Regions from separate parts of the Homo sapiens genome. Here regions 2, 3, 4, 5 and 6 are each linked to region 1. Evidence: fine-mapped expression QTL. A gene starts in region 1. Each other region holds a variant in brackets. All regions are shown on one strand. Distances are between the middles of the regions.

The links.
Region 2: its variant is fine-mapped to the expression of RPTOR in monocytes after LPS (Fairfax 2014, PIP 0.95).
Region 3: its variant is fine-mapped to the expression of RPTOR in whole blood (INTERVAL, PIP 0.97).
Region 4: its variant is fine-mapped to the expression of RPTOR in whole blood (TOPMed, PIP 0.99).
Region 5: its variant is fine-mapped to the expression of RPTOR in whole blood (TOPMed, PIP above 0.99).
Region 6: its variant is fine-mapped to the expression of RPTOR in whole blood (TOPMed, PIP above 0.99).

Annotation. Positions count from the first base shown.
Region 1 is chr17:80,542,888-80,546,974 of GRCh38, forward strand. RPTOR (regulatory associated protein of MTOR complex 1) reads left to right here and starts at 1,951. Exons shown (of 34, transcript NM_020761.3): 1 at 1,951-2,904. The coding sequence starts at 2,743. RefSeq lists enhancers at 1,645-2,471, 1,805-2,164, 2,445-2,544, 2,472-3,298.
Region 2 is chr17:80,897,506-80,901,592 of GRCh38, forward strand. All of the region lies in intron 20 of RPTOR (regulatory associated protein of MTOR complex 1), which reads left to right. Among named protein-coding and RNA genes, the nearest start is that of CHMP6, 92 kb to the right of the region's middle. The variant G/T (reference allele first, on the strand shown) is at 2,168.
Region 3 is chr17:80,695,241-80,699,327 of GRCh38, forward strand. All of the region lies in intron 3 of RPTOR (regulatory associated protein of MTOR complex 1), which reads left to right. Among named protein-coding and RNA genes, the nearest start is that of RPTOR, 150 kb to the left of the region's middle. RefSeq lists an enhancer at 1,487-2,014 and a silencer at 3,109-3,403. The variant G/T (reference allele first, on the strand shown) is at 2,027.
Region 4 is chr17:80,951,005-80,955,091 of GRCh38, forward strand. The region is part of intron 28 of RPTOR (regulatory associated protein of MTOR complex 1); the gene reads left to right. Among named protein-coding and RNA genes, the nearest start is that of CHMP6, 39 kb to the right of the region's middle. The variant T/C (reference allele first, on the strand shown) is at 2,049.
Region 5 is chr17:80,741,571-80,745,657 of GRCh38, forward strand. All of the region lies in intron 5 of RPTOR (regulatory associated protein of MTOR complex 1), which reads left to right. Among named protein-coding and RNA genes, the nearest start is that of RPTOR, 200 kb to the left of the region's middle. RefSeq lists a silencer at 2,044-2,398. The variant C/T (reference allele first, on the strand shown) is at 1,747.
Region 6 is chr17:80,759,426-80,763,512 of GRCh38, forward strand. All of the region lies in intron 6 of RPTOR (regulatory associated protein of MTOR complex 1), which reads left to right. Among named protein-coding and RNA genes, the nearest start is that of RPTOR, 220 kb to the left of the region's middle. RefSeq lists enhancers at 1,609-2,808, 2,104-2,153. The variant C/T (reference allele first, on the strand shown) is at 2,075.

The sequences.
Region 1 (4,087 bases):
GTGGGCTTTCCCAGGTCACAGAGCTAGTTAGGGATGAATGGGTTTAGCGTTGCTGCTTTTCTGTAACTGTGACTTCCTGCAAGAGCTGCTGGAATGCAGCTGTCTACAGCCACCGGAGGTGGGGAGCAAGGTGACAAGGCAGAGGACAGGAGTGATTTTGTTGCCTTCAGATGAGAACGGGGTCTTCCTAAGACCCTGCATCCCTGAAGCCTCTGCTGGTAACTGTGAGGATAGTCTCTGCCAACAGAGAGGGTGCCCTGAGTTTCAATAGGAGAATTGGCTCCATGGGGTGTAATAACCAAACGAATGTGCGGAATGACAATGATTTAATCCTGTAGCCTTTATTAAAGGCTTGCTTTGTGCTGGGTGAGAAAGGTCTGGGATTGTATTCTTCATTCTCATTTTGAAAGGAACACAAATGCCATCAAGATTTTGATATGGATGGCCACATGTGTCTAAGCCCCGGAAAACCATCCTGAGAGATCAAGACCATCTTGGCCAGGATGGTCTTGAACTCCTGACCTCATGATCCACCCACCTCAGCCTCCCAAAGTGCTGGGATTACAGGCGTGCACCACCACGCCTGGCCTCGTTTTATTCTTATTTATTTATTTATTTATTTATTTATTTTTGAGATGGAATCTCACTCTGTCACCCAGGCTGGAATGCAGTGGTGTAATCTCGGCTCACTGCAACCTCTGCCTCCCAGGTTCCAGCTCTTCTCCTGCCTCAGCCTCCCGAGCAGCTGAGACTACAGACGCACGCCACCACGCCCAGCTAATTTTTGTATTTTTATTAGAGACGGCGTTTCACCATGTTGGCCAGGCTGGTCTCGAACTCCTGAACTCGTGATCCACCCTCCTCGGCTTCCCAAAGGGCTAGGATTATAGGCGTGAGCCACGGTGCCCTGCCTACATTTGGTTTTATAGTCCACCTTACACAGTTCTCTATACATTGTAAATGAGCCAAATTTCCTGAATTGAAAAAGAGAGTCACACAAGAGGCTTGCCTCCACGCACAGACATGTAGTTTTAGATGTCTGCACGTGAAGCTATATCAAAATAAGAATAAACTACTGCTACCAAGAAGTGGGAAAAAAATTTAAAAAGGATAAACTGCTCAGAAAACGAAACAGATTAAACAAAAAATTGTATTAGATGAAATTTTTTTTCATCGAATCTTGCTCCAGACTCTTCTTCTGTTGCTTCAGACCCTTCTTCATCTGAAGAGTCTTGCTCTGTCTCCCAGGCTGGAGTGCAGTGGCACGATCTTGGCCCACTGCAACCTCCGCCTCCCGGGTTCAAGCAATTCTCCTGCCTCAGCCTCCTGAGTAGCTGGGATTACAGGCGCGCACCACCACGCCCAGCTAATTTGTGTATTTTTAGTAGGGACGGGGTTTCACCATGTTGGCCAGGCTGGTCTCGATCTCTTGACCTCGTGATCTGCCCGCTTCGGCCTCCCAAAGTGCTGGGATTACAGGCGTGAGCCACGGCGCCCGGCCTTTCACTTGGTTCTCTATGAAAAAATTAAAGAGAAAATCTGATTGACACTGTGGAGGACACTACACTCCAAAAAAAAAAGTACTATATTTTCTAATATTATCAGTGCTTTTTAATATTTTCTAATATTATCAGTGAAGCTTTTGCCGCTTTTTCAAAATCTGGAAGAAACAAGGCGGTTGATTCCTTTAATTTCAGGAGCATGTAACTTCATTTATAATGACAATGTTTTTGAAAAAATAAATTAAACCGACAGTTTCATTTGTAGGATTGACTTTAATAACACGCCTCTACTGAACAAATGGCGATTAACTGGGGAAAACGGAATTATGGTAACCGAGGTAACGGGGTCGGGGACTCTTTCTCCTTCGCTGCATGCTGGGTGGCGGGGAGAGACCGCTCTGAGGAGGTTTGGTCTGTCGGCCACGCCGTAGGCCGCGGTGCATTCTGGGTCCTGGCAATATGGCGTCCTCCTTGATGGGCTGATGAGATGAGTTTCACTGTAGCTCCAAACCAGAGGGCAAAGCTCCCATGACCCAATAAGCCCACATTGTCCCTTTCCTCCGTGGTTCCGTGTCGCCCGTTTCTCAGGACTCGTTCTCAGGCAGGAGAGAGCCTCGGGGCTGAAGGCCAGGACCAGCCAGGCCGCGCGGACCTGAGGTTGAGGAACCGGGTGCAGGCGAGCACGATGGGCCGGTCGTGGCTCTGGTTGCAGCAGCTCAGACGAGTGCGGGACCCGCAGGGCTGAGAGTGGCTGGAGGAGACCCAGGGCCCTTTGAACCCGATCCCTTGGCCGGAGACCTCAGCCCAGTCGGCCCAGTGGGCGAACCGGCACCAAGAGCGGCCTGCCTGTCTTCGGAACTGCTGAGGCGGTGGAGGCCGAGAGCAGGGTCATCGTGAGGCCTGAAGTCTCTTACGCTTTTGGCAGCTCCCCTCGCAGCCCCTCTGGAAACGTACAGCCTCAGGAGCAGCCAGTGGCTTGGGACCTGGGGTGGTGTGTGTCTGCGGAGCTTCTTGGGCTGCCCCATTTCCTAGCGGCCCCCACCTCCCCACTTCCCGCTCAGAGTTAGAGATAAGGATCTCAGACTTTTGCCTGAGTAAGGGTCTCCGCACTCTTTATCCATTTGGTTTTCGATTTCCCGTTTTTGTTTCTTATTTCACCAATTCTGGTACACGCTAGTTTTTAAGGCTGGAGGTTCTCGAGCGCTTGCTGCCAAGGACTCCCCCACCCCCTCCCCCACTGATGGAGTCCGAAATGCTGCAATCGCCTCTTCTGGGCCTGGGGGAGGAAGATGAGGCTGATCTTACAGACTGGAACCTACCTTTGGCTTTTATGAAAAAGAGGCACTGTGAGAAAATTGAAGGCTCCAAATCCTTAGCTCAGAGCTGGAGGATGAAGGATCGGGTAAGTGGATTCTGAAGGCACCCCTTGAACTTGGTAGTTTCCCCAACAAAGAAAGTTTACAGCCCGAAAAGTGTCCTTGGGAAAGCGCCGACATTTCCCCCTAGCCACACGTTGTAAGTCAACTAGAAAGCAAAAGCCATTTCAGACTGCAGTTTTTGGTTGAAAATGGAAAATGCTGTTTTGGTTAGTCATTATTCACTGGGTAGTGTTAATTCAATTCCAACTAAGTTCTAATTCAGATAATAAAAGTTAAGCAAATTTGAAAATAGAGCATTGCGAGTATTTACATGCTCTTTGGCATACTACTTAGTTCTGTAAACACTTAGAGGAAGGACAACGTGCGATATAATCTTTATACCCACATGATTAGTCTACTTTTTAAAATATCCAAGCTGGGTGAAGTGCAGAAGTCTGATATACTATGCTAGGAAATGAGATTACTGGAAAATGTTCAACTAGTAACAAATTAGTGCAAAGTTATTATAAAGTTACACTGAACTTCATTCTAGTCTTCTAAACAATTTCTCTTGAAGCTAGATTTTCCTCCTTTTATGTAGTGTCCTGTTGCTGTAACTTGGAAACAGGATTTCTTTAATCGTGAGTTAGGGTATGAGGCGTCGAGACTTGGGTGCAGGTTTTAGGGTGTCCGCATGGTGTTTGGAGTGTGGAGAGTGACTCACAAGCAGCTGGTAGGAAAGAAAACAGCCGAATTTTGTTGGATTTGTCCTTCATAAAACACCCATCTATTTCCTGGCCTCAAAAGCAAAAGGGTAGTACTGCTTCTCCTCTATGCACACTTATAATTTGTCTTTTTGTAAGTTATTTTCTCCCTCCAGGCTGCTTTTATTTGCACATTTCAGTGGTATAAAAGAGGAAGTTGGTGTTACAATGTTTGATTTTCTCTAGGCTTATGTATATGTTTATGGAATATTATTGTTTTTTAGTATATGATGTTGAACATATATAAGATTACACTTCTGGGCTGGGCGCGGTGGCTCACGCCTGTAATCTCAGCACTTTGGGAGGCCAAGGCAGGCCTCCCAAAGGCAGGCGGATCACCTGAGGTCAGGAGTTTGAGACCAGCCCGGCCAACATGGTGAAACCCTGTCTGTACTAAAAATACAAAAATTAGCTGGGCTTGGTGGCAGGTGCCCGTAATCCCAGCTACTCGAGAAGCTGAGGC
Region 2 (4,087 bases), 350 kb after region 1:
CCCTGTGCATGGCTGTTTGTTAGGGTAGGGAATTACATGATTGAATTTCTTGTGAAATATCCTTGCATTTCTGGGGGCACCCAGCGTGGTAATGTCCCCTGACATCGCTGCCTTACGCTCACCAGCTATTTCTTTGGGCGCTCCCCATTGGCATTCACGAGTGGGTTGGGCTGTGACTTTTCTTGTCCTGACCTGGCTGGTTTAGACATTGAGTCTGTACCTGCCTAGTAAAACTGGCTCCTCCGGGCATGGTGACAGGTGCCTGTAATCCCAGCTACTTGGGAGGCTGAGGCAGGAGAGTTGCTTGAATTCGGGCAGCAGAGGTTGCAGTGAGCCAAGATCACGCCACTGCACTCCAGCCTGGGTAATAGAGTGAGACTCCATCTCAAAACAAAAACAAAACAAAACAAAACAAAACTGGCTCAGGAGTGTACCCTCATTCCCTGTCCAAAAAAACTGGCTCAGGAGTGCGCCGTCATTCCCTGTCCTCGGGGGCAATTTTTATAAGACAAAGATGATGTGTTCTTTCGGTGTCTGAGTAGAATTTGCCCCTGAACTGTCTGGGCTAGTGTAGTGTTGTGAGGGTGGGTTTGAATTCTGTATTCCATTTCTTTAATGCTGATAGGATTATTTACATTCTCTATTTCTTCATAAGCTAGCTTCAAAAAGTTTTATTCTTCTAGGATTTTATTCATTTCAGCTAAGTATTCTCATTCTTTCCCTTGAGGCTGTCTGCAGTATTCTCATGAGTCTCTAATCTCTGCTGTCTCTTTATTGTTTTAGCTGCTTTTACTGATATTCCCAATCTGCTGCCTCTTTAGATATGTCCCCGTTTATTCCTATTGTTGTTTATTTGCCTTTTCCCCTTTTTCCTGATTAATCCTCTAAGATGTTTGTTCATTTCTTTAGTGTCTTCAAGTTCTAACTTTTAGGCTTTGTGGATTTACTGCATTATTTTATCTTTATTTTTCTATTCCAGTACTTTATTTTGTTTCCTTTCTACTGTTTTCTCTAGGTTCACTCTCTTGTCCTGTTACAGTTCTCAAACAGAAAATAAAAACAGCTCATTAACTTTGAGTTTTTCTTCCTTCCTAATGTGTGTGTTCAGGTCTGCGGGACCCCTGCCCCGGCTCCCCCAACCCCTGCCCCCGCTCCCCCCCCGCTCCCCCCACCCCCCGCCGCCCCGACTCCCCCCGCCCCGGCTCCCCCCGCACCTGCTCACCCAACCCCTGCTCACCCCGCCCCTGCTCACCCCGCCGTCTCCGTCTAGTGAGTTTTGATGATGGGCTTTTCACTTGTGTTCAGCTTCAAGCTTTCTTTCTACTTCCATTGTGGTTCCTGGGGATGGCGGTCCAGCCACAATGACAGCAGCGCATGACAGGAGCCCAAAGACCCGAAACAGACGCAGGGCATCCGCCAAGGCAGTTCCCACCGGGCAACCCTGTGGGTGTGCTCCCAGCCTTGGCCAGCTGCTGCCTTGAGCACCTCTGGATAGAACGAGTCCAGAGCTTGCACCATGCCCTCCAGGGTATGGAGAACTGAAAGGTTCACTACACAACAACCCAGACACGCCAGCTTAGCCCAGACACGCCAACTTGTTAATTTTCATTGAGAAATAACGTTGCAGCTTTGTGCATTTGGCTGTCCACTAAAATATGCCAAGTGCCCAGAAAGCGCAGAGTTGACTCCGTATATTCGAGTATAAATCAAGGTATTGCCAAGTCACCAATGAAATATATTCTAACGTCACTTGTAAGATGTTTGTTTTGAACTGGAATACACTTTTTAAATAGAATTAATGTTACATATAGTGGTTAGGTTTCCAGGCTAGCCTGCAAGAGTCTTTTAAAACCTGTCTGCAGAAATTCTACTTATAAATCTACAATGAAAAAAGGTATTTAAAAATTTTTTTTTAAGTACTAGAAAATGTAAATTCATAGTATTCTGTTTTGATTACACATTTCCCCTGGCCCCGGCCACAGCTCCTGTGAATAGCTCTCTAGCGCCTCCAGCAGGTTAGTGCCACCTCTGCCCCAGTTCACGCTCATCAAGGTCAAGGTGATAGCTCCCTTCCGTCACGTGTAGGTTAGAGCAGGAGTCTGCAAACTCTTCCTGTGAAAGAGCTTTGCAGGTGGGACTGCCCCTTGGCACTTCCCCAACACTGCCA[G/T]TGTGGTGCAAAAGTAGCCAGAGACCGCGTGTAGGTGAATGAACTTGGCCATGTTGCTATGTAACCGTGTGGACTGAAGTTTGAATTTTGCGTAACTTCACATCACAAAATATTGTTCCTTTGATTTTTTTTTCAACCACTTAAAAAGTATAAGAACCATACACAGGCCATAGAAAAACAAGGCTGAGTTCAGCTCAGAGAGCCTGACAGTAGGGCACACCCTGCCCGCACCCTGGCCTCCAAGGATACTCCTGTGAGTCAGAGGGCTTGGGATTCTCCCACGGATTGGACAGATATTTTGACAGTGCCCCCACTGTGCATGCTGGGGCACAAAAGTACAGAACAGGCAAACCCAATGCCACCTGTGTCGAAGCCAGTACCATCGGCTCTGGGCATCTCCCACCCCTCCCTGCAGAAGTGGGCGTCCTCCCTCTGCAGCCAAGGGGACCGGCGTTTACTCAGGTTGACTCCTGGCCAGGAGTCGGGGACTCCTCTTTGTGCCCCAACACATCCTTCTCTCAGCCGGGCATCTGTGGCCGTCTCCTCCCCGCCTCGCAGCCACCTGAGCCAGCAGCTCTGGCCTGGTGGTCGCAGCTCTCTCCCGGGTCTCCCTGCTTCCACTGTGGCCCTCCTGGGGCCGTGTGCTCACTGTGGCCTTCCTTTTTTTTCTGAGATGGAGTTTTCCTCTTGTCACTCCAGCTAGGGTTTAATGGCGCGATCTCTGCTCACTGCCTCCCGGGTTCAAGCAATTCTCCTGCCTCAGCCTCCCAAGTAGCTGGGATTACAGGCGCATGCCACCACACCTGGCTAATTTTGTACTTTTAGTAGAGACAAAGTTTCTCCAAGTTGGTCAGGCTGGTCTCGAACTTCCAACCTCGGGTGATCTGCGCGCCTCAGCCTCCCAAAGTGCTGGGATTACAGGCATGAGCCACTGTGCTCGACTGGCCTTCTTCTTTCACAGGAAGCGACAGCAGCATCACCCCTCGGTGCTCACCTGGTGACCGTCTGCCAAGGGCCTGGTGGCCCCGCCACCCTACCTGGCCCATGCTCCATGGGGTTCTCGGTTCACTCTCGTCCCTCCACTCACACGTATCTGGCCATCAAGTAAGAATCAAAATAAAAAGTTGCACCTGGCCTGCAAGTGTGCAGAACCGCACCTTTTGTTGATCCAGGAAGCTCAAGCCAGGCAGTGTGGCGCTGGGTCACCATGGCACCATTGAGAGCTTCCGTCTGCAGGTCCCCACGCCCACAGCACCTCCCTTTCCCCCTGGGCATTTGGATACCACATGGGCATCTCCCCTTCTGCTGGCGAAGGCTACAGAAAGTTCACAGCTGTGGAGTTTCCAGGTGGCTGAACTTGCTGAGGCTGCTGTTTGCTGTGCGCGTGCCATGCCTGAGGCCCTGGGTGCTGTCCACAGGCAAGAGGGACTGCGGAGGCCCCGCCCAACTCCTGTGTGAAACTTAGCTCTTGTCTGTGATGAGTGAATGCCGTTGTTATCCTCGGTACTGGTCTCGGTGGAGTACAGGGCGAAGAATCGCAGTTTCATTTGAGGGCCACCCAGACGGGAAGCACACAGCAGCCTGGGGCCCGGACACAGGGGCTTGGCCTCCATGAGTTTTCTCCTCTGCCGGTTCTTTCTTTTCTGTCTTCTCGAAGGAGCTGGACTCCCCATTCCACCATCCTTCTTATACAATGTGATTCCTGACTTTTTTTTTTTTACTGGAGAAAACTGAGTTTTATTCGTATATCATTCAAATCTTAGGAAATTTGACAGGAAAGAGTTTCACAATGAGCTGGAGTTTAGGAAGGAAAGAAAACAAAGTCGCCCCTGCAAAGCCAGCCTCATTCATATTCAGTGAGGTGTCACTCACACCACCTGGAAACCACCGTGCTTACCTAAGTGTTTAGAAGTCATAACT
Region 3 (4,087 bases), 150 kb after region 1:
TTGTCTGCCACGGGGGCCCGAGCATTTCCACACGAGACTTTCACATCAGCCACCCGGGCAGGGCCCGCGTTAGTTTAGTTGTTTGTGGAGGAGAAAATTGAGGTTTGGTTTTGTTCATGACGTTGCCAGGTCGAATGGCTGGTGAATCATTGATTTGGGGCTGAGACTTAAGTTTCCCATCTCTGGGCGGGACCTGTGCTCTCTCCCTGTAACAGTGGCCTCTGTTACAGAGGGGCAGGTGGGTGGCTCACGTGTGGGCTCACCTGCGTCACTTCTCTCCAGCTCACCTCCACTGCGAGAGTGCCTGGGGATGCCTGCCAGCCACCCAGAGCCAGCGTCTTCCCAAGCAGCTGTTTTACAGGAAACAAAGCAGGATGACCTTGGGCTTCCTAGTCTCTGCACGTTACCCCGAATTCCAGAATAATCGTGAGAAGGAGCCAGTGGAGTGGTGTGACTTTTGTATTTATAGACTTCTTCCAAAGGTCACCTCTTTTATTTCTGAAAAACAAGTCGCTTGAGGCCCATCTTTACAGAGTGACAGGAGCTCAGGATGCAGAGGCACCAAGGCCAGGGAGGAGCGTTGGGGGTGGCTGGAGCTGGTGGGCCAAGGGCCGCAGACCACTTTTGCCCTGCATGGCCTCGTGGCTGCCTTTTCTACCTGCGTGAGCTGGCTTTGATCTACCCCGGACCCATCTTTCTGTGAAGAGTTTGCAGAGGATGCTGGTTACATCTTAGATGGAAATTGGCCGTGTCTCTGCTGTTTCTGAGTGTGCGACTCTCAGAGCCAAGGTGGCATCTGGCGACTGGCCTTGTTCTTGTGAGTCCCTGTAGGGCAGGATAGATTTTTCCGGCAGGGCTGCAGCCTGGAGTTCAGGCTTCCTCTCCCTTTTAAATTTCAAAGACTCAGGGTTCCATTTAAACAGACAAGATAAGTGGCAGCTTTGTTTTGTTTTGTTTTTTCATTAAGAGATTTTGGAGGGGGAGGAAACCAGCCTTACAGTGATAGCATCAGGAAAAGATTACACAGAATGGCATCTTATTATGAAATATTGAAAACATTTAAAGAGCAAATAAAATATGCAAATAGAGTGGGACAGAATTTGTACTGCACAGCCTCTTGCCCTACATCTTTCCCAATAAAAATTTAACTCTGAGGTCCATGTTGGGACAAAAAAAATGATACTGGGATAGTGGAGCTCGGCTTTCGTTAGTTCAAAGCGAGCAGCATATTAATCCAAGTAAGCAGAATTCCCATGTAGATTCATTCCACAGCCTTTTCTTGGGTGACGACTCTGTGCCCAGAAGCAAGGGGCTGACTGGGACCTGAGAGGCCTCTTCTTAGTGGCCATGGCCTCCCGGGGCAAGGCCGGCTGGTGCGTCAGAGCCTGGATCTCTGCAGTGGGCGCAGAAGGGACACAGGAATTTTCTCTTGGCCTCTTTGCTGGACTTGCAGCAGGGATGCCGCCGAACTCAGCCGTTTGCAGGCGGGAGCACGTGAGTGAGCGAGTGTGGGATCCAGCCAGCCCCCCCAAGCACCAATACAGGAGCAAACTCCATGCGGGGCCCACAGCCAGACCAGGTGTGTCACCTTGAGGGGAACACGGTGGCACCCAGGCAAGGGTGCCCATGACCCTGAAGCCCCAGAGTGGGTGTTAGTGTGCTCATTAGCTCTTTTAGTTCTTCCATCCACAGTCCAACAGATGGTGGCATGTTAGCAGCTCCGTCGCCCCCTGGCCCCATCACGTAGGGTGGCTGCCCTCTGCCAGCAGGAGCAAAGGGCTAGTGTGACAGTCTTTCTGGTACCAGCACTTGGTGGGTCCTGAGCTCTTGTCCAGCATCCAAGCAGAATGCAGATGTGCCTACAGTCAGAGAGTGAGCAAGGTGAGGGGTTTTACTGAGTGATGAAAGAGCTTTCTGCAGAGAGGGGACATGGGGGCGGTCCCCCCACCCGAAGGTGGGAAAATCCCTCCAGTGTGTCTTAGTCTGGGGCTTTTGTGGGCTCAGAATAGGGGAGGGGCAGGCTGTA[G/T]GTAGTATTGGAAAAGGCAACATTTGATTGGTTAAAAGGCATTATTCAGAAAGAATCAATTGGGAAAGGGTGGGCAAACGGGAATAGGAGTTTTGCTCTGGGTCTTGGGTTTTATCCAGGACCTGCCGTCTGGTCTTTCAGCCTTCAGGCTGTTATTTGGCTTGGAGGTAGGTTTCACCAGGGACCTGCCCCTGTCTGCCTAGGCATTTGACTACCTCCCATCGGTATCAGAAGCACCTTGTGAGCCCCAGGGAGCTGGTGAGGACCTTGTAAGGGAGGAGGAGGGCGGCGTGATAGGTGCAGGTGGCGGCGTGATAGGTGCAGGTGGCACCGTGCACAGCCACGTCAGGGACTTGGGAACGTCTGGGCCAAGGAGCCACCTTGTGCAGAGGCATGGAGTCATGAGAGATTAGCCACGGTGGGAACGTGGTGAGGACACTGGGCTGAGCAGAGGGCTCGCAGGTGGTGCTGGGCAGGGAGCCTGTTGACCCACCCACAGAGGGTTTGTCTCAGGGGCCGGTGGCCTGACTGCTGTGCGTTAAGGAGGAAGGCTCTGACAGAATGGGGGGACTTGGAGAGGGGTCATTTTGGAGGCCTGAAGGTGGTTGGGGTGTTTGACTCCCATGAAGGCAGAGGTGGTACAGCGAAGTCAGAGGGACACATTCCTGTGACCCACTGGGCACCAGGGAGATGGCAGGAGCAGGAGCTGAGGGTAGTGGTGAGGTTTCTGCTGGCAGAGTTTGGTGGTTGAGTTTCTGCTGGCTGATTTGGTGGGGCCAGCGAGTAGACAAGGATCCCAGACGGGTGGGTGCGGGGCAAGGTGGGGAATTTGACCAGATTTCTCTTGAAGGTGCCCTATGGGGAAACGGTGTTGTGAAAGTAGGAGGGTGAGGAACGGAGGCGACTGAGGGTCCACAGAGGAGGATGGGCCAGAGGCAGAGGTGACAGGCCAGGTAGGCCGAGTGAGCAGGGGAGCCACGTGAGGCCAGTGCGGGCGCACCAGGCACTGGGCCCCATGCAGAGGGGCTGCCGCCCCACCCCCACCCAGGCCTCACTGACTCCTGTGGGAGCCATCTAGGTACAGCAACCACGTGGAGGATAGCGTGAAAAGTGACGGGACGGAGCAAAGAAAGACACCAGCTCCTCGTTTGCAGAGGTTTCTGCACCGTTGTCACCAGCATGTGGTCATGGCCTGCTCCCCGGGGGCCATTCCAGCCATTGATCCACATTGTCCTCCAGCCAAAGGAAACAAAGCGGGAAGTGGAAAGAGCTGGAGTTACGTGGGGGCACCTTCCATCCTAGGCCGGCAGCTGGTCAACCTCCTCAGCCTCGTCACCGTTTAACATCCTCCCTTTTGTTCTTTTCTCCTTAATCTTTATGTTTGGAAAGATTTCTATAGACAAATGTGCCGCTGCTTCTCCATAGCCTTATCTGGAACAAAGGAAATGTCTTTTATTACCATTCATGCAGGTATAATCCGTGAAAGACAAGCCTGTTCTGCCAGTCACCAAGTCAGTCCTTTTCCTTCTGTCTTGCTCATGGAAGGCTGTCCCGGCCCTCACCTGACTAGTGGTGCAGCTCTTCAGGGGGTAGTGCCCATCCAATTCCTGGGGAAACCCAGGCGAGCCTGCTGGCCAGGAAGCGCCAGCTTGTGTCTGATTGCTAGGTTACCCTGGGTGCTTCCTGGATGTTCAGGCGCCCGTGATTCCCCCAGCATCTGCCTCGAGCTTATGTGCATGGAGCAGCAGATCCCTTTGTCTGGGCAGTTAGATTGTCTGCTAAGGAAAGTGGGTGTTGGAGCAAAAGCCTTGCTTCACTGCTGTACTCCAACCCATCAAAATGGAATTGTTTAAAATGCCCTCAAAATAAAAATAGAGACCCCAAGCTCTTGATAAAACAGCTTTCTCTGGAGAAGCTCATCGGGCTGTGTAAACTCCAATAGGAAGTATTTATTCATCATTTGTATGTGCACAAATATTTATTTAATGTCAACTGTGAAGGCTGATGAGTAAATCAGCAGGTAGAGTCCAGTACCCTGGTGCAGTGATGGGGAGCTAGAGG
Region 4 (4,087 bases), 410 kb after region 1:
AAATGCAGTGCTGGAAGGACACACCCGTGGCTAGCCCCGGGGTCCATGAGACCCCCCTAGAAGCATCCACATGTCCATGCCCAGCTGGCCCCGGGGTCCCTGAGACCCCCCGGAAGCATCCACACGTCCACACCCGGCTGGCCCCAGGGTCCCTGAGACCCCCCAGAAGCATCCACACGTCCACACCCGGCTGGGCCTGGGGTCCCTGACACCCCCAGAAGCATCCACACATCCACACCGGGCCACGCTGCAGGAAACAAGACTTGGTGGCCTGTGCTGCCCCACGGGCTCTCAGTCTCTCCGGGTCAGGATGGCAGTGCCCAGCTTACATATCAGGAAGCAGCACTGACGAGAAAAGCGGCCTTCTCGGCCCAGACCCTCCAGTGCTTCCTTCAGAGTGGGAGCCTGTGCTGCACTTCAGGGGTCTCGGGGTCAGAGAACGAGGCTCTCACTGCGGGGGAAGGCAGCAGAGGCGTCTCGCCAGACGTAAGAGCTCCAGGCCCCAGTCCCCGAAGGCTGTGCCAGCTGTGGGCTGGGGCACCAGGCACAGCTCTGGGCTCCCTCAGGTTGCACAGGACATGGGAAACCTGGGTGTGGGCAGCAGGCGGGTGTGTCACTGCTGCTGCGGCTTTGCTATGTGTCCAGGACTGGTTCAAACCAGTTCACTCGGCATCACAGAATCTGAACTGAAAAAGGACTTAGGGTTCACCTGACTATACCCCTCCATGGCAGGACGCTCGGGCCGAGGGACAGCTGCCCAGAGCCTCTGGTTCAGATGGACACCTGAGGCCCAGGGTCGGGCTGTGCCATGTCCCCCATGCCGGCATGTCACTGTCCTACCCGGGTACGTCGGCCTATGTGCTGGAGACAGGGCCTTTACAGAGGTGATTAAGGTCAAACCAAGTCACCAGGGTGGCCCTAACCCAATGTGCCTCGTGTCCTTACAAGAAGAGGCCACCAGGACACAGACACACGTGCAGGGACAGGTGGGCGTTCCTGGGACGCCGGCTCGGCACTCACCCAATGAGGTCACGGTGTCAAGGGAGGGCCCGAGTTCCAGCAGGTTGCTGGGGGATGTCTCACGGGCCTGAGGGTAATTATTTGTCATCGATTGGAGTCACACTGCCTAAATCCAGAGCCGTGAATGCTGACCACAGCACAGCCACCACTCTTCTTGAAAGTCACAGTCACCAGGACCCAGTGTTGGCATTTGATAGATTAATGGTATTAGCAGGTTGGTTTCCCTCCGCGGTATTACATTTAAGGGAATAAACAACTCACATGAACGGCCAAGGGCTGAAGACAGAAGTGGTGCTCTCCATCTTCGTCAGGTGCTCACGGAGGGCCCACAGCACATCTGATCTGGTCACCACGGGGATCCGTGGAGCCGCAGAGGTTTCATCCTCCCCTGGAACTGAGGAGCTCAGGCCCTCCGCCAGCTTCTGCTGCAGGGAGCCTGCAGGAGGCCCAAGGCGTGACCTCCGCTTGCCCCAGCCCCCACTCGCCTCTCCCGGACCCGCTTGCCCAGTTGGGCACACCCAGCTCAGGCACACGCAAGCCAGGCTCCCCACGTCACCCCTGAGACTGGTGCTTTGGAGGCTGTTTCTTGTTTTCTGGCATCTTGAATGTTCTCCATGTGCTCGTTCTCACCTTTTCCCTCTGTTTGTTCTGCTCGTGTCACTGCTGTTCCCAGGGCACCTCTCTGTTCTTCCCGACCCAAGGTGTCGCTTCCTGGCAGAGTCACCAGGAGGATCGTGCCTGGGACGTGGCTGCTGCCCCCCAAGTGACCATGCAGTCTAGAAGTGCAGAGCCCAGACCCATGCATCTCTCCCTTCTCTTTTTCTTTTCTTCTTTTTTTTTTTTTTTTTTTTTTTTTTTGAGGTGGAGTCTCGCTCTGTTGCCCAGGCTGGAGTGCAGTGGCGTGATCTTGGCTCACTGCAACCTCCGCCTCCCAGGTTCAAGCGATTCTCCTGCCTCAGCCTCCCAAGTAGCTGGGACTAGAGGGTCGCACCACCACGCCTGGCTAATTTTTGTATTTTTAGTAGAGA[T/C]GGGGTTTCACCATGTTGGCCAGGATGGTCTCGATCTCCTGACCTCAGGTGATCCTCCCACCTTGGCCTCCCACAGTGCTGGGATTACAGGTGTGAGCCACTGCACCCAGCCTGTGCATTTTCCAAGTTGTGCAGCCACCACCTTTATCTAGTTCCAGAAGATTCTCACCACTCCAGAAGGCGGCCTGCTGCCCATTAAAGCAGTTTCTTCCCATAGATTCTTATTTATCTATTTTTGAGACAGGTTCTTGCTGTCACCCAGGCTGGAATGCAGTGGCACCATCACGGCTCACTGCAGCCTCGACCTCTCAGGGCTCAGGCAGTCCTCCTACCTCAGCCTCCTGAGTAGCTGGGACCACAGGCCCATGCCCCACACCCAGCTCCCATAAGTTCCTCACTTAAACAGAGAGAAACTTAGAAAATGTCTGTGCCAAGCCAAGCCCTCTGTGCTTGTGGATCTGCCCCAGGTCTCAGAGTGGGGCCTCAGGGCCTCCTGGCGCAGCCTCCGGATGGCCGTGCCTCCAGGCAGGACAGCACTGAGCCACTAAAAGGGATGCACCAGGAACCCTGGGCGGTGTCCTCCTCGGTCACCCAGACGCCACTTCCCAAGAGCATGTCCGGGTGGGCAGCAAGCATTCTTTGTGATTAATGTAGGTAACAGCATATCCTGAGGGAGGGGGCTCCAGTTCTGTGTCCTCAGGCTCTGTTGGCTGCACAGCTGCAGCAGGAGCTGGGCTCTTCTGGGCAGAAACGGGGAAGTATGTGCCCTCCCGCCCGGTTGCACACCGGCCCTCACTGTGCTCACAAGGCCTCCCAGCGGAGGAGCAGGGCTGCAAGTTGAAAGCCTGTGATCCACCACGGCGCTCGTGCTTCTGACCTGCTGGGACATTTCTTCCTGCCTGGGTTCAGGTGTATCACAGTAGAGGGACTACACTTCTTTTTTTGTTTGTTTGTGTTTGTTTTTGAGATGGGGTCTTGCTCTCACTGCAGCCTCAACCACCTGGGCTCAAGCGGTCATCCCACCTCAGCCTCCCAACTAGCTGGACCACAGGCGCACACCACTGCAACGGCTAATCTTTTTTCTTTTGAGACGGAGTTTCACTCTTGTTGCCCAGGCTGGCGTACAATGGCGGATCTTGGCTCACTGCAACCTCCACCTCTCAGGTTCAAGCAATTCTCCTGCCTCAGCCTCCCAAGTAGTTGGGATTACAGGCACCCACTGCCACACCCAGCTATTTTGTGTATTTTTAGTAGAGACGGTGTTTCACTATGTTGGCCAGGCTGGTCTCGAACTCCTGACCTCAGGTGATCCACCCGCCTCAGCCTCCCAAAGTGCTGGGATTACAGGCGTGAGCCACTGTGCCCGGGCTACATTGGCTAATCTTTTATTATTTGTAAAGACAAGGTCTTGCTATGTTGCCCAGGCTGGTCTTGAACTCCTGGGCTTAAGCAATCCTCTGTCTCGGCCTCCCAAAGTGCTGGGATCACAGGTGTAAACACATCTGGCCTGGGACTGCATTTCAAAAGTAAAATAAAGAATGTATGTATGCCAGCAATTAACAACTAGAAAATGTAATTATAAAACATCATGGGCCAGGCGTGGTGGCTCACGCCTGTAATCCCAGAAGCCGAGGCAGATGGATCACCTGAGGTCAATAGTTCAAGACCAGCCTGACCAACATGGTGAAACCCCATCTCTACTAAAAATACAAAAATTAGCTGGACATGGTGGCAGGTGCCTGTAATCCCAGTTACTCAGGAGGCTGAGGCAGGAGAATCACTTGAACCTGGGAGGCGGAGGTTGCAGTGAGCCAAGATCACACCACTGCACTCCAGCCTGGGCAAAAGTGTGAGACTACATCTCAAAAAAAAAGAAAGAAAGAAAGAAAGAAATCATAGACAACGGGAATAAAAACTGCAAGATACCTAGGAATGAATCCAACAAATGCACTTTCTTCACAGATCAAAGCATAAACTCTAATTGAAGACTATAAAAGGCACATGCAGTGTTCATGGCACCATAGCCATGGATGAAAAGA
Region 5 (4,087 bases), 200 kb after region 1:
GCAGGACACAAGAGCTCTGCTCAGGCAATGTGGGGTGTGGGGTCCTATCAGAGATGTTTGTTCAGCATCTCCTGTAAATTAGGAAGGGTGACAGGGCATACAGCAGCACGCAAGTGGACAAACCCTGGCTCTACTTTCCTGAGAATGCATCAGAAGGTGGTCGGTGTCATCCTAGAACAGACAATGGCTGAAGCCACGGGATGGTGACGAGCCCCCATGTGGTTCGTGTGGCTGGAGAGGAGAGGCCAGTCGAGGCCTGCGTTCGGTGGTGTGTGTAGAGTCTGGGAAAAGGAGAGGCACTGACAGACCAGACCAGAGAAGTAGCCAGGCAGTTGGAGGGTAACCAGGCACTCGTGGCATCAGGAAGTCAGGAAAAGCCTCAGGAAAGCCTTCTAGAAGTAGGGACAGTTAGCTGATTGCTGTGCTGTTGAGCGGCTCACACGAGGAGGACTGAGGATGGACCGTTGTATTTGTGCACACGGGGCCATTGCTGGATTTAACAAAAGCAGTGTCAACGCAGGGTGGTGGGCTCTCATGTGATTCTAAACTGTTCAAGAGAGGGTGGGCGATGCCATGTGGAAGCTCCTGAGGGAGGTTTGTTTTCGTCACATGGACATTATGAGAGCATGTGTTTGTGCTAATGGGAGTAACCTGGCAGAGAGGGAAAAGCTGATGTGTGGGAGGGAGAGAGAGCTCCTGAGGGCGGCCCTTAAGTAGGTGTGAAGGGAACAGGATCCATTACACAAGGGGAGGAGCTGGCTGGAGGCGGAGCATCGACGGTGGTCATTCCAGAAGGGGATGGCAGCACATGCATGCAGAGGCCAGGTTTGGAGGAAGGATGCAGACGCACAGCACAATCAAGTTTAGGAGGAGCAGGTACACACACACACACACGTATATAAGCACATGCACATACAGACATGTACACATACACATGCACATAGACAACACATGCACACATGTACACGTATACTCACCTACATTTACATACATGTATGCACACACATAGACATATATGCATATAGACATGCATAGATGCCACACACATACACACGCACATATACATACATGTCCACACATATAAACACATGCACATACACATACAGCCATATACACAGAGACACACATAGACACCATAGACACACCCACACACATACACATGCATGTGCGCACACATACATGCACATATAGACACGCACATGTATACATGTGCATACACACATGCACACGCCTATATACACATATATACATGCCCACCTATACATACATAAACATACACATATACATGTGCACACAGAAACATGGACATATACACACATGCACACATACACACAGGTACATGCTCATACATGCACATCTACACACTCACCTATACACACACACACACACAGCTTTTGGTGCCATGCCGCAGCACATTCCTAGTGCTTCACATATGTTCCTTTCTAATTGGTGTTTGTTTTAGAAGGTGGAGTGAGTACACGTGTCTGGATCCAGCCTTATTAGATTGTCTTTGCGCACTGGGAATAACACCCACTTTATGCTCAGCTCTTACTAGTGTCTCCAGCTTTCCCTCTCCTCCTTGTTAACAGAATTGGAACCCTTCCTGTCTTCCCGTCTCTCTCCTGAAATTAGCCAAGGCTCTCTCTCTTATGACTCAGTTCATTAGAGAAGTAAGCAGAAACACAGCAGCTGATGATGAACAAAATGTTTCCGGGGGTGAAGGCACCCATCTGGCAGGGGGCAGGG[C/T]GCTCTTGCAGGTTCCGCCGTGCAGAGAAGAAGCCACAAGGACCGAGGGAGGCCTGAAGGAGATGTCTAACCTGAGCCGTAGAACGTAAGAAGTTGCCAGCATAAAGACAGGTAGGAAAGGCATGTCAGTGACAGAGGCAGGAGAACACGTGACCCACTTGTGTGGGGAGCTCCAGCAGCGCGTTCGGAGTGCTGGGCATTGCCAGGTCTGAAAGAGGTCATCAGTTCTTGGGAAAGGTGCCTGCGTGGGCTAGAAATCATGGAACAAATCATAAAGCCAAGTAGTAATTTAAACCCAGATGCTACTTTAATTAACTCACTTTGCTACTTTGCCCTCGGCAGCAAGGGTTGAGGGCACAGCCCTGGCTACTAGCACAGCCCTGGCTACTAGCACTGTCCTGGCTACGAGCACAGCCCTGGCTACTAGCAGAGCCCTGGCTACTAGCACTCTCCTGGTTACTAGCAGAGCCCTGGCTACTAGCACAGCCCTGGCTACTAGCAGAGCCCTGGCTACTAGCACAGCCCTGGTTACTAGCAGAGCCCTGGCTACTAGCACAGCCCTGGCTACTAGCACTGTCCTGGTTACGAGCACAGCCCTGGTTACTAGCAGAGCCCTGGTTACTAGCACAGCCCTGGCTACTAGCACAGCCCTGGCTACTAGCACTGTCCTGGTTATGAGCACAGCCCTGGTTACTAGCACAGCCCTGGTTACTAGCACAGCCCTGGTTACTAGCACAGCCCTGGCTACTAGCACTGTCCTGGTTACGAGCACAGCCCTGGTTACTAGCACAGCCCTGGTTACTAGCACAGCCCTGGCTACTAGCACTATCCTGGTTACTAGCACAGCCCTGGTTACTAGCACTATCCTGGCTACTAGCACAGCCCTGGTTACTAGCACTGTCCTGGCTACTAGCACAGCCCTGGTTACTAGCACTGTCCTGGCTACTAGCACAGCCCTGGTTACTAGCACTGTCCTGGCTACTAGCACAGCCCTGGTTACTAGCACAGCCCTGGCTACTAGCACAGCCCTGGCTACTAGCACTGTCCTGGTTACGAGCACAGCCCTGGTTACGAGCACTGTCCTGGCTACTAGCACAGCCCTGGCTACTAGCACAGCCCTGGCTACTAGCACTGTCCTGGTTACTAGCACAGCCCTGGTTACTAGCACAGCCCTGGCTACTAGCACTGTCCTGGTTACGAGCACAGCCCTGGCTACTAGCACAGCCCTGGCTACTAGCACTGTCCTGGTTACGAGCACAGCCCTGGCTACTAGCACTGTCCTGGTTACTAGCACAGCCCTGGTTACTAGCAGAGCCCTGGCTACTAGCACTCTCCTGGTTACGAGCACAGCCCTGGCTACTAGCACAGCCCTGGCTACTAGCACTGTCCTGGCTACTAGCACTGTCCTGGCTACTAGCACTGTCCTGGCTACTAGCACTGTCCTGGCTACTAGCACTGTCCTGGCTACTAGCACAGCCCTGGCTACTAGCACTGTCCTGGCTACTAGCACAGCCCTGGTTACTAGCACTGTCCTGGCTACTAGCACTGTCCTGGTTACGAGCACAGCCCTGGCTACTAGCACTGTCCTGGCTACTAGCACAGCCCTGGTTACTAGCAGAGCCCTGGTTACTAGCAGAGCCCTGGCTTCTAGCAGAGCCCTGGTTACTAGCACAGCCTTGGTTACTAGCACAGTCCTGGCTACTAGACACCTCTGCTAGAGACTGCCCAAAGAATATGCCATGAGTTAGCTCTTTCTCCCCCTCCTGCCACTGGTCAGCTAAGCCTTCCCCCTAAAAATCACTTTTTGATATAGAGGGTGAAGAATTTCCAGTATCTCCTTTAGTTGACTGTGAGAGAAATTAGTGTAATTTCTAATTGACCATCTTCACAGAGTTGTAGAATGATCACAGAGCATTTAGAAGCTGTGGGTTGCTAATAGCTAAATGGCTTTGAAATAATGAATGCTTCATTTGGGGGAACTCGGGGTAACTGTGACAAACCGTTGTTATGAAGGGGCTTTAGCTAGCCTTGGAAGGGCAGGCTGGAGGCTTCTGCACGTCCTTGGAAGTCTCCATCCACCAGAAGGAGCTCCTTCTGCTCTCTCAGCCTGGATGTGATAGTTGCCAGCAATAGGCGCAACTTGGTTTTTAAATTAAAATCTAATATTTGATATACATAATTCTATCAACAATATATTAAAAATATGATTTCTGCTTTGCATCTGCTCTTTTTGGTACACTGTGTGTCACATGATAGATGCCACATTAATATCTTTGACTATTAATAGAGTTGGATAAGTAATACACTGACTCCTTTAGCAGCCTCAGCCTTTCTTTGAACT
Region 6 (4,087 bases), 220 kb after region 1:
GACTTTGAAATCAATATGCCACAGTGGCAGACAGTGGTCATCAGATAACCACTGCCTGGAACAATTGAGCGGTGTCTCAGGTGGCGGCTCTTTTACAATAAACTGCTTTCTCCCATATTGAAGTGCTGAAATTAGGTTGAACATGACATTTTGCTAGGTGTCTATGGCCTGTGAGTGGTAATGGACTATATTCATTAAAGAATTATCAAGTGAAATGTGTAGTTTTGTGTGAGCTAAGTTAAAAACCACCAGGGTTTTTTTTTTTAATGGAAGAGTGAGATAGTTTGTCAGACAGTAATTACGTATGTTTTTAGGGTTTTAGTTTTATTTTTTCATTTTGAAAAGTCAATTTTTCTAATTAAAAATGAAAGATACATTCTTTTCAGAAAATTACTAAAAAGTTAAAAGTAGAAAAAAATCATCCAAGATTTTACCATCTAAGGACAACTAGTGTTCACTTTTTGATGTATTGCCTGTTGGTCTTTTTTCTGTGCATGTACATTTTGCACTGATGTAAGTGGACAGAATTTACGATTTCATATCCTTAACCCTTCGCATTATACTAGAGTTCCCTGCCCTAGATCATTAGAGACTCTTAGTAAGTATCATTTTATATTTCACTATGTTGAAGTTCCATGTTTTATTTAGCCGGAGCGTAGGGCTTTGGGATTTAGGCGCCAGGAGTATGCGGGTGGGAAGGTTCAGCCTGGCACTCTGATGGGAGTCGGCAGACCTGGTTCTGTGAAGGGGCAGACGCACTTGGGTTAGGCTTTTCGGGCCACACAGTCCCAAGTCTGCTGTTGCAGCACGAAAGAGCCACAGGCAATATATAAACAAATGAGCATGGCTGTGTTCCAGTCGAGCTTTCTTTTTTCTTTTTTCTTTTTTTTTTTTTTGAGACCGAGTCTCACTGTTGCCCAGGCTGGAGTGCAGTGGCGTGATCTCGGCTCACTGCAACCTCCACCTCCTCGGTTCAAGCGATTCTCCTGCCTCAGCCTCCCGAGTAGCTGGGATTACAGGTGCCCACCACCACGCCTGGCTAATTTTTGTATTTTTAGTAGAGATGAGATTTTACCATGTTGGCCAGGCTGGCATCAAACTCCTGACCTCAGGTGATCCGCCCGCCTCAGCCTTCCAAAGTGCTGAGATTACAGGCACGAGCCACCGCACCCAGCCTCAGTCAAGCTTTCTTTAAGGAAACAGGCAGTTGGCCAGATTTGGCCCAGGAGCTATAGCTTGGCACTTCCTGCTCCAGAAAAGGGAACTAGGATTGGGCTGCAGATGACGGCTGTGCGTGTCTGCCGGTCTGCAGGTGACCTGGAGAAGGGCGATGCTCGGGAAGGTGGATTCCCTCCCTCCCTCCCTTTACTATGTAAATAAGAGAAACGGTTTCTAAGCACGCTGCCCTCATTATGCTGGCACAGCTGCTACAGAATGCGGTGTGCTGGGTAAACAACATACAGCTTTGCTTCATTTGGACAAAATGTGTACATGTGTACTTGGTGGCAAGCGTATTTATGAATCTTATTTGATGATGAACTTGTTGGAAGACATTGTTCTCTAATTTTTTTTCATTTTTGCCTGTCTTTTTCATTTTTGGAAACTGATTTCAATAATTCCAAAATGAGCAATGACATTACTTTCCACATAAATGATTATCTTACTCACCATATACATCAATACACTGTAAGAATCCAAAATATATTTTTTCCCTTGGCTGTTTTCTACTTCTTTGATTGAGTGGCATAATATCATTTTAGATTTATTACGCGTCTATTTGTATACTACTGAAAATTATAACCCAGTGGGACTTCATTTGCTGTGGGACTTGCTATAAAACAGATTGATGTCTATTGCACTGTGCTGCATGCACTAGTATTGTCTATTAATGAAAATGATAAACATTATTTTGGATTGAATAGAGGTCAAAAAACTTACTTCCTTTCTTTCAATTAAGTTGAAGGATTTCCAGGACTATAAATGTTAATGATAGAGCATTAACGTGTATTTGTCAGCGTGGAAAGTTTCGCTCCTGCATTGCCCGCAGGAGACGGAAGATGCATGGGTTTCCTGG[C/T]GCGCAGGTTGGGTGGAGGCTCAGCGTGGCTCTGTCTGGCCAGGCTAAGTGGTTTGCAGTGCCTGTCTCATTTCAGACATTTGCTGTGACATTTGCTTCGTATTTTTTCCTGATGACTCAACCAAGAATCATTCAGAATTACCTTTAGAAACATAAATTCTTGTGGTTTTGATGATAGAGTTAACCATGTGTTCTCCAAGGAGTCTTCTAAAATACATCTGCTTTGCCAGAGAACACACTTTCTTCTGCCCGTTCAGTGCTCTCGGGTCTTTTGCCGCTTCCTTTCAACAACAGTCCGATGACTTTGTCTTCCTGCATATGTGCGAAGGGAGAGGAGCTCACTGGTCCTCCCAGAGGGTGAAGTAACCGGGACACATTATTGAATAAAATGCTCTTTTGTAGTATCCCACTCTGTATCTTAGACCTTAGTCGTAGGCAAGTTTAATTTGGAATTTGCGTCTGGAGAAACGGCTTTATGACGTTTCCAAGTAGAGCCTCAGTATCATGGATCTCACACAGTCCCCGCGGCAGCTTCCAGGCCGTTTCCAGAGGAAAATATTTTTTCTCCCCAAACAAGACAGTGTTCTCTCACTGTTCCAGTCTCTTGACATATACTCAATTAAGATGAATATCATAATGTATTGTAATAGAGCTCCCGTTTTAAAAGATGACGTGTAAAAACCACCTGATGGATGCGGTAAGAAAGGGAATTGAAGCAGATGGAGGGGCACGGGCTGCTGACTCCCCGGCTGAACCCCGTCCTCGGGTGCTGCAGGAAAGAGTGAGATTGATGATCCTGGAGGGAGCCCACTCAGCAGCACAGCCGGAGACTTTGCTGGTCCCTTGAGATGGCTGAGTCCCCACTGGGGGCTGGGGTGAGGGGTGAGGCCGGAGGAGACAGTGGAGCTGGCGAGGGCCCCAGGGTGCAGGCAAGGCTGAGGGCACTCGGCTCTCCTCCCACTGCCCTTGATAGGCATGGCCTGCTGTGCTGTGTCTGGGGCTCAGAAAGATGGAAAATAAGAGGGTGGAAAGAAAGAGTTTGTCCTACCGCCCTTGTGAAAAGAGAAGTAATCCAATAATAAATAAAAGTGATAAAAGACAATTGGAAATATGAAGAAGAAACAGGAAGAAAGACCAGTTGGAAGCATTAAGTATAAAAAATATAATTGGTGAAATAATTGAAGAGATGGATTGAAAAGCAACATTATGGATAGAGCCAAGAATAAACCAGGAAGCTGAGAAGCTTGTTTGAGGAGTTCCCACCAAAGGGATGGAGCTAGAAGGAAGGGGAGAAACATGAGAGGCAGAGACAAAGTTTAAATATCTAGGAAATAACATTTTCTTCTCTCTAAAAAAAAACGTAGAAAAGGAGAAAAGACAGGCTTAGTAAATAGAAAGTGTGAGATACGATGGCTAAAATGTTTTGAAATAAAGTTGTAACTGTAAACGAATTGAATTCACCTCTCAAAGGGCCATGATTCTTGTGTTGGTTAAAATCATGATACAGCAGTCTCTTGTCCATGAGACACAGATTTAAAGCAAAACGTTTAAGCCTGGGCAAAACAGCACGACCCTGTCTCTACTAAAAATTTAAAAATTAGCTGGACATGGTGGCTTATGCCTGTGGTCTCAGTTCCTCGGGAGGCTGAGGCAGGAGGATCAGTTGAGCCCAGGAGTTCAAGGCTGCAGTGAGCTGTGATTGTGCCACTGCACTCCAGCCTGGGTGACAGGGTAAGACCCAGTCTCTAAAAAAAAATAATAATAATAAAAAATAAGAACATGTATTTCAAAGGTTGGAAATCAGAAGATGAAAAAGAGAAATACGAGCTAAAAGAAAGCTGGGGTGGCCAGTCCCAATATGACTTAAAGCAGAAGCTGAGATAAATTATTGAGAGGGGCAAAGAAAAATGTTGTATTGTGGTAAAACGAACAGGAAAGCAGGAAGGTATATACTGATGATGACTGTGTGCACCTGACAACGTGGCCTCGAACGAGATAAGATGGGAGCTGAAG